Homo sapiens: one gene and its partner. The protein of the gene in region 2 interacts with the protein of the main gene of each other region in a pairwise test. Each region holds a gene or a part of one and is shown on either strand. Other genes may lie near its edges.

The links. Proteins that work in one complex are often made in the same cells at the same time.
Region 1: the proteins of CLN5 (region 2) and PROM1 interact in a protein complementation assay, tested with the Homo sapiens proteins (one study listed by IntAct).

What each region holds. Positions count from the first base shown.
Region 1 is NC_000004.12:16,077,248-16,081,023, forward strand, and holds part of PROM1 (prominin-1 isoform 1 precursor), read right to left. Parts: intron 1,057-3,776; exon of another isoform or gene 1-1,056. UniProt on the Homo sapiens protein: May play a role in cell differentiation, proliferation and apoptosis. Binds cholesterol in cholesterol-containing plasma membrane microdomains and may play a role in the organization of the apical plasma membrane in epithelial cells.
Region 2 is NC_000013.11:76,998,581-77,002,080, reverse strand, and holds part of CLN5 (bis(monoacylglycero)phosphate synthase CLN5), read right to left. Parts: intron 1,624-3,500; coding exon 1,112-1,623; 3' UTR 1-1,111. UniProt on the Homo sapiens protein: Exhibits palmitoyl protein thioesterase (S-depalmitoylation) activity in vitro and most likely plays a role in protein S-depalmitoylation.

The sequences.
Region 1 (3,776 bases), on a different chromosome or scaffold from region 2:
GGCTGGAGGTGGGACATGCGGGCAACAATGCTGCTCTGTAAGGCATTGAGATGTTTATGGGTATGCATATCTAAAGCACAGCACTTAATTCTTTACCTTGTCTATGATGCAGAAACCTTTGTTCACGTGTTTATCTGCTGACCTTCTCTCCACTATTATCCTGTGACCCTGCCACATCCCCCTCTCTGAGAAACACCCAAGAATGATCAATAAATACTAAGGGAACTCAGAGGCCAGGATGGATCCTCCGTACGCTGAACGCTGGTCCCCTGGGCCCCCTTATTTCTTTCTCTATACTTTGTCTCTGTGTCTTTTTCTTTTCCAAGTCTCTCGTTCCACCTAACGAGAAACACCCACAGGTGTGGAGGGGCAACCCACCCCTTCAATTAACCATGCGGCCAAGAGTCAAACCCACTAGTTTGCCTTCAAAGTCCAAGATCTAACTATGACATCAAGACACTGTCCCTTCAGTGCCCTCCCTCTCAGGCTCTAGTACGAGCCACTGGGGCCCCAGCAATCCAGTACATGCTTATATGCTTATTTCTTCTCCAAGTGTGTGTTGTTCTCTTTGCCGCTGGAGATATATCTTACTCTGCCTTATATTCTACTTATTTACTCACTAATCTCATTTCAAACATCCCCCTCTCCACCTCACCCCGAATCCAAAGTAGAAGGGCATGGCCTCAAGTCTAGGGACCACACCGTTTGAGGCTGGACACATGTGCAACACTGGAACCTGTCTTTCTAATAAGCTTACCAAGTAATCCTGATGGAAATCTTCACCCTAAGTCACCACCTCTACAACTAGGGGTCTCAGAGATGAAAGCCAGGGCAGAGGGAGACTCTTACCTACCCCTTGGGAGACGGAGAAAGACACAAGAATCCTAAAAGCAGCTGTGGCTCCAGCATCTGGGAAGGGAATGGGACAGAAAGTGCCTCCAAGATGGACTCTGTCCTACTCTTCTTTCAATCCCCAGACCTTAACACTGGGCATGGCACGTAGTCGGTGTTTAGTAAGTGCCTGCTGAGCAGCTTGTTTCACTCATGGCACCATCCCTGGCAGGGAAAGAAATAGCAGCAGAGTCACCAATGCATGTAACCTGCCTGCAGCAAGAAGTGCCCCAGACAGGAGGCTGCAAAGCTTTAGAGCAGGGCCTTCAGCCTAATCCAGGTAGGTGGGTGGAAACCAAACACAGCCTGCTCCAGAGCTACAGGGCAAGTGCTGGCGTAGAAGCCAAAATATGTTATTTCCTTGTGCGGTTTCATGAGACTAGGCAAATCAGCACAGAACCTGGAAGGATCCCAAGTGTACCACTCTTCCTCTCTGTATTAAGTGTCCTGGAGCAAGAGCAAGCTGCTGTCACTTTGTGAGCTAGATACATACTTACTAACTTTCAAGATAAGTACAGGGTGCTCCTGAAACACATACTGTAAGAAAGGGAAGGGGGATGATGAAGAAGGTGACATACTTTGCAAGAAGCCAGAGGACCCACTACCAATATTCCAAGTCAAAGAAAGCTTTGGACAACAGATGGGATTTCTTGAGCTATTTGAACAAAGATGTTAATTCATATCTAATCCCTCCATTGCCTCATCTTCTAAGTCCTGTCCCACTCCAATTACTCCTGCACAAAGCTACCAATACAAGGGCCCCAAATTCTTCCTTTGTCAAATCATGGGCTGCTCAGATCCCAAGTGGCTGCCAGTACTAACCTCAGGCCCACGCTTCAGGTTACGCCCACCGTCACATCCACAATAGACACCTTGACCCTGGTGTTTCCAAAGGGCTCCCTTCAAACATCTACTGCAAGCACAACACACCACATGTACACTTTATCTTGGTTTTTTTTTTTGCTAAAGGACAGGCAGAGAGCTAAGCCTCCAGCACAGCAGCTGGAAGGATTAAAGGCTCAGATGCTGAGAAGGCCCACTTTCTGGTAATTCCACCAAACCTCAGCCCAGGACAGAGAGAAACTGCCAAGGGAAGAACTATGAACAAACAGGCTCTCCAACTCCCTCAGTGACAAAGCAGGGGAAGGGAAATTCCCAGTGAAGTGAAACATAACTGCTCACCGCAGCAAAGATGGGAGACAATGACTTGAGATAGACAGCAACTGCAGTTGCACTTCCAGATTTCTTTACATCTTGCTCCAAAATGTAGGTCCCTCTGAAGTTTTAAAGTACATTTTAAGAAAGTATTAATATCTCACTAACTATGAAATACTAGAAACTGATTAAAGTCAAGTCAAAGAGGAAGAGTTTTTTATCTCGGGTTTAATAGGTTGTGCCAAAAACAGAAGCTCTGAGTATTTACCAGCTAAACCCCACTAGGTCCGAGAGCCACTGAGAGTAGCATCTGTCTCGGGATAAAATGGGGTGTTTAGTTGAAATGCAGACTATTAATGGACCTAATTTCTGGGATGAAACCCATTAATCTGCATTTTTAACAAGCTTTCCTGGGGACTGATCCTTCAAACAAAGTTTGAGAACAGTTCTGTTCCTGGAGTACTCTGATCCTGGAGTACCCGCCTAGTCAATTCATGTCACTTTCCAAGGACACTTCAGGCTTCCCAAACACATTGGAAAATAACACATGTAAGGTGAAAGCTCCCCAAATGCCCTTTTCATATTGCTTTGAATTGATCTACCCCAGCTGCTGTGCAGGTCCCTGGCTTATTTCTGTATCCCCAGAGCCTGGAACACAGTTGGTACTCAATGAAGAATTGCTACCAGCCTGGGCAACATAGAGAGGCCCTGTCTCTACAAAAAAAAAAAAAAAAAAAAAAAAAATTTAAATTAGCAAACGTAGTGGTGCACAACTGTAGTCCCAGCTACTCGGAAGTCTGAAGCAGGAGGATTACTTGAGTCCAGGAAGCTGAGCCTGTAGTGAGCCATAATCATACCACTGCACTCCAGCCTGGGCGACCTTACATGATTTTGAGCCTGGAGTCCAGAGAACTGCATTTCAATACTGGTTTAAAAGCAAATATGGCCCGGGCGTGGTGGCTCAAGCCTGTAATCCCAGCATTTTGGGAGGCCGAGGCGGGCGGATCACGAGGTCAGGAGATCGAGACCATCCTGGCTAACATGGTGAAACCCTGTCTCTACTAAAAATACAAAAAAAATTAGCCAGGTGTGGTGGTGCACACCTGTAGTCCCAGCTACTCGGGAGGCTGAGGCAGGAGAATCACTTGAACCCGGGAGGCGGAGGTTGCAGTGACCTGAGATCATGCCACTGCACTCCAGCCTGGGTGACAGAGACTCCATCTCAAAAAAAAAAATTAAAAATGAAAAAGCAAATATGGTGATCAATCACCTTCATTTCTTCTTTTCTTCTTTTGATGGAACTTCTCAGAATCTTTCTTTTTAAAGAAGAGCTTTGTAGTGGATTTTTGTCATCTGGAGTGCTTTTGGCGGGGGCATGGGGGATACCCAACATCTGAGACCACGTTTGTGAGCTGGGTGGGAGGCAGCCCTGCCTTGCATTGTGAGGTCAGCTGAGGCGCCCAAACTGTGTCCTGGTGGAGCTGAGCCATGCTGGGCCAATCAGAAGCTTTCTTCTGGGCCTGGGCCTGCGCACTCTGAAGCAGGACAGTATCTAATTCATTCCAGCAATGATGGCAGCAATGCCAGTAGCCACATCCAGGGTCCTGTTCTGGCAGCCGCAGCCACCCACCCATCAGGGGTCCTGTGGCATGTCCTAGATTCCTAAGCCTGGCTAGCCAGCCTTGCTGCCACTTACCTAAGCCACCCAGGGACCATCCTTTCAAGAAGTC
Region 2 (3,500 bases):
TCTTACTGAATGGTGTTTTCTCCTTGAATAGAAACGTGTTCAGTTGATCATCAAATACTTAAAGGACCTTGAAAGCTTGTCTGGCTCTAATTAAAGCACAGCTACTTGGTGATCTTAACAGAAACCTGTCCTCTCTCGGAGAAGTGCAACCTCTTCCACTGCGCTGACAGCTTTGTGGGAAGAGGGAGAACTACAGGAAACAATGAAGAAGTCAGAAGGTGCCTGTTTACCCAAACGTGTCTGCAGCCATGTTCCTGCATACCCCGGTTAGAAGAACCGCTGAAGCACTATGCTATCAGCTTAAAATCTAGGTGACTACAAAACCCTGGAAAGTTTGGCACATAAACTACATTAGGCAAGATCAAGGATGACATTTGTTCTTTGATTAATCATTATCACTGCCATTCAATGTGACCTGCCAAACATACACAACTTACATCTTTACAGCAATCCTAAATCCTAAGATTTAGTGATGTTAGTATGCTTAAAGAACACAAGCCAGTTACTAGCTAGTTCCAAAATCTCAGCCAGAAATATGTGTTAACACTGGATTTGCCACATCTAGAAGCACAATCACTCCAGTTATGGTGTCTAAACGAATGTCTAAAGTTAGGTGAATGGAATGTAATCAGACTATACTAAACTTGGTTCCAAAAGTTATAGAAGTTGTAAAGTTAGTCTAAACTAAAGCACTTAAGTGAAAAAGTGTAACTGCCATATCAGAAAGAAGAGCTCCCACCATGAAAATGTCACTGAATGTATTTTTTATTTTTGAAGGTATTTTTAAAATCTGGGCACACCATATCTATCTGTAGGACCCTGGGTCCAAAGGTCCTACATAACTGATATGAACCATAATTCTCCATATTAACAAAGGCTCGGAAATTGAAACCAAGATCACCTAACTCGCTCACTTTGGCCAATATAGTACGAATTTCAGCTTCTTTACAAGAGAAGAGTCCTGAGATGTTAATATGCAGCAATTCTGCTGATGTGCATTTTAACTTTATGCACCAAGGAAGAAAGGCTAAGGAATTCACAAAAGTAAAATCACCCCCTGAAAAACAGATGCTGGTGATTGGAGAAAAAAGAGCAGTAGAATTAAGGTGTTTTATAAACCAGAGAGTGTTTTGTTTCTGATAGGTAAAGGGATTTCTTCATATGTTATTTTAATAAAAGGGAATTTCATAGGTAAAAACCAATATTCAAAATTATAAAACAAATAGAACTGTTTGTGCACAATCACTGCATCAAAAATTTGCAAGAGACTCAACAGAAATTCTTTAGTTGGCAAATGTGGTTTGAAGGGGTAATAAAATCTTTTTATGGCTAAACCAAGAGTCTTGTTTCCTGTTGGCCCAAAAACAGATGTTTCATTTCCCAGATAAGTAGGTTCTCCACTGTAAAGAAATATTCTTGTATAGTTGGTTTCTATGTTCTTGAACTCTGCTCCAAATTCAGCCAACTTGTTAAAGGTCCTTAACACAAATTTGGAACAGTCGTAGGAATCAAACCATGTCTCTGCCCCCTTTTCTGGGCTGGCTTTTACATTCCATGTCTCATAATAAATTCCTGTTTCATTGTCCTGTTTCACCCACTTTGCCATTTGGTTGAACATGTTTCCTAGTTTAAAAAAACAAAACAAAGTCACCTAGTGAACAAAGCTAATCATGTTAATTTTTTTTTTTTTTTTTTTTAAGACAGGTCTCCCTCTGTTGCCGAGGCTAGAGTGCGGTGGTAACATCACAGCTCACTGCAGCCTTGACCTCCTGGGCTTAAGTGATCCTCCCACCTCGGCCTCCTGAGTAGCTGGGACTACAGGCGCTGGCCACCAAACCCAACTAATTTTTTAATTTTTCTTTTTTTTAATTTGAGACCAGCCTGGGCAACACGGGGTCTTGCTGTATTGCCCAGGCTGGTCTCAAATTCCCAACCTCAAGTGATCCTCCTGCTTCAGCATTCTAAAGCACTGGGATTATAGGTTTGAGCTACCATGGCTGGCCTAATCATATTAATTTTAAGTAAAATGTTCTAACTTGATTAAGACTGGATGCCTGAGTAAACAATGGTTTTGAATTTCCACACCTGCATTTCACAACAGGAATCCAAGCTCAGCCAATTTTATTCCATTCTTCAAGGCACAAGATATTTCTGAATTATAAACATTAGATATAATAGGTGTATAAGGAGAAGTCATCTTACATACTAATTCTATAATCATTTAAGCTATAGTCAAAGCGAAATTATACAAATGCAGAAGCTCTCTTTCTCTACCCAACTCACCAAATCTTGGATTCAGAGGCAAAAGAGAAAAGGAAAGCACAAAAAGAATTGCGAAAGAGGAAAAGCAGAATGGGCAAAGACAGTGTAAGGAAAATGGAGGTGTGGGAAATGTGGAGCTTCACTGTTGCAAAGCATGCTACACATAAAGTATGAATGGCTGCCTGAGGAGCCACTGCTCTAGAAGGCTGGCTATTACTGTTATGAGAACAAGCACCATACCCCATCCACCTTGTGTGTTTGGTACGTTTCTTTCTTCCCTGTACTTGGAGTTGCTGGGATGCTGCTGATGACCTCTCCACCTGCCACGTTAAGTCCTTCCAACAAATCAACTAAACTGGAAATGTTTTAGGCCGAGTTCATACTCCAGGATGGCTAACCCTCTCTTCTACCATCTTGTACTAGACCAGAAGAATCTTTCCAAATATTCAGAAAACACTACTCTGCATGGTTACAACTCTCATCTTGGGCATTTATAATGCCTAATAGAACTGGGCCCCAAACACTGCATCCTGTCACTGTGTGCAAACCTCTTTGGTTACTCCAACTTGAGTCCATAAAATAAATACTTCATGTTCTGTAAAATGAATAGAGTGACTGCCTTTATCAATTTTATGGAATTAAAATTGTAGAACAGAATAAAGCCTGTTGTATTAGAACTGGGGATACTGTTCTTAGCATTCTTCAACTTTCAAATGCCACCACTATCCTTATGAGACAAGAATGCTTCAAAACACTATTTTGTCAATCACAGGATTATTCACAAGGCAAATAAATGACTTAAAAGATTTAAGTACTGGCATATTTTGAACTATTTTACAAAAAATAGTGATCACTTATTCATATGATCATTGACTTTATGTCAGAAGGAAGGATTTTCAGATAACGATGTAGGTGGAAATGGGGAAAGGTGTGAACTGGCCTGGAATGAAAGAAAGAACCGCTAATGATGGACTTTTGTATTGTTGGTATGGTTTAAGGCACATTGATTAGAAAGTAGCAGGAAATATTAGAAAACAACATGGTGCATTCGGCTAACAGATCCTTGTTACATTTAAAAGACCTCAGTTTTATTCCTGATTCTGCTACATCCAGCTCTTTGACCTTGAGAGGCAAGTAAGTCATGTTACCTGGCTGAGCCTCAATTCCTTATTTGCAGAGAATGAGTATCTTATCCTCTCCACTGAACCGTGAGTTAACATACCTCCAAATCATTTGTA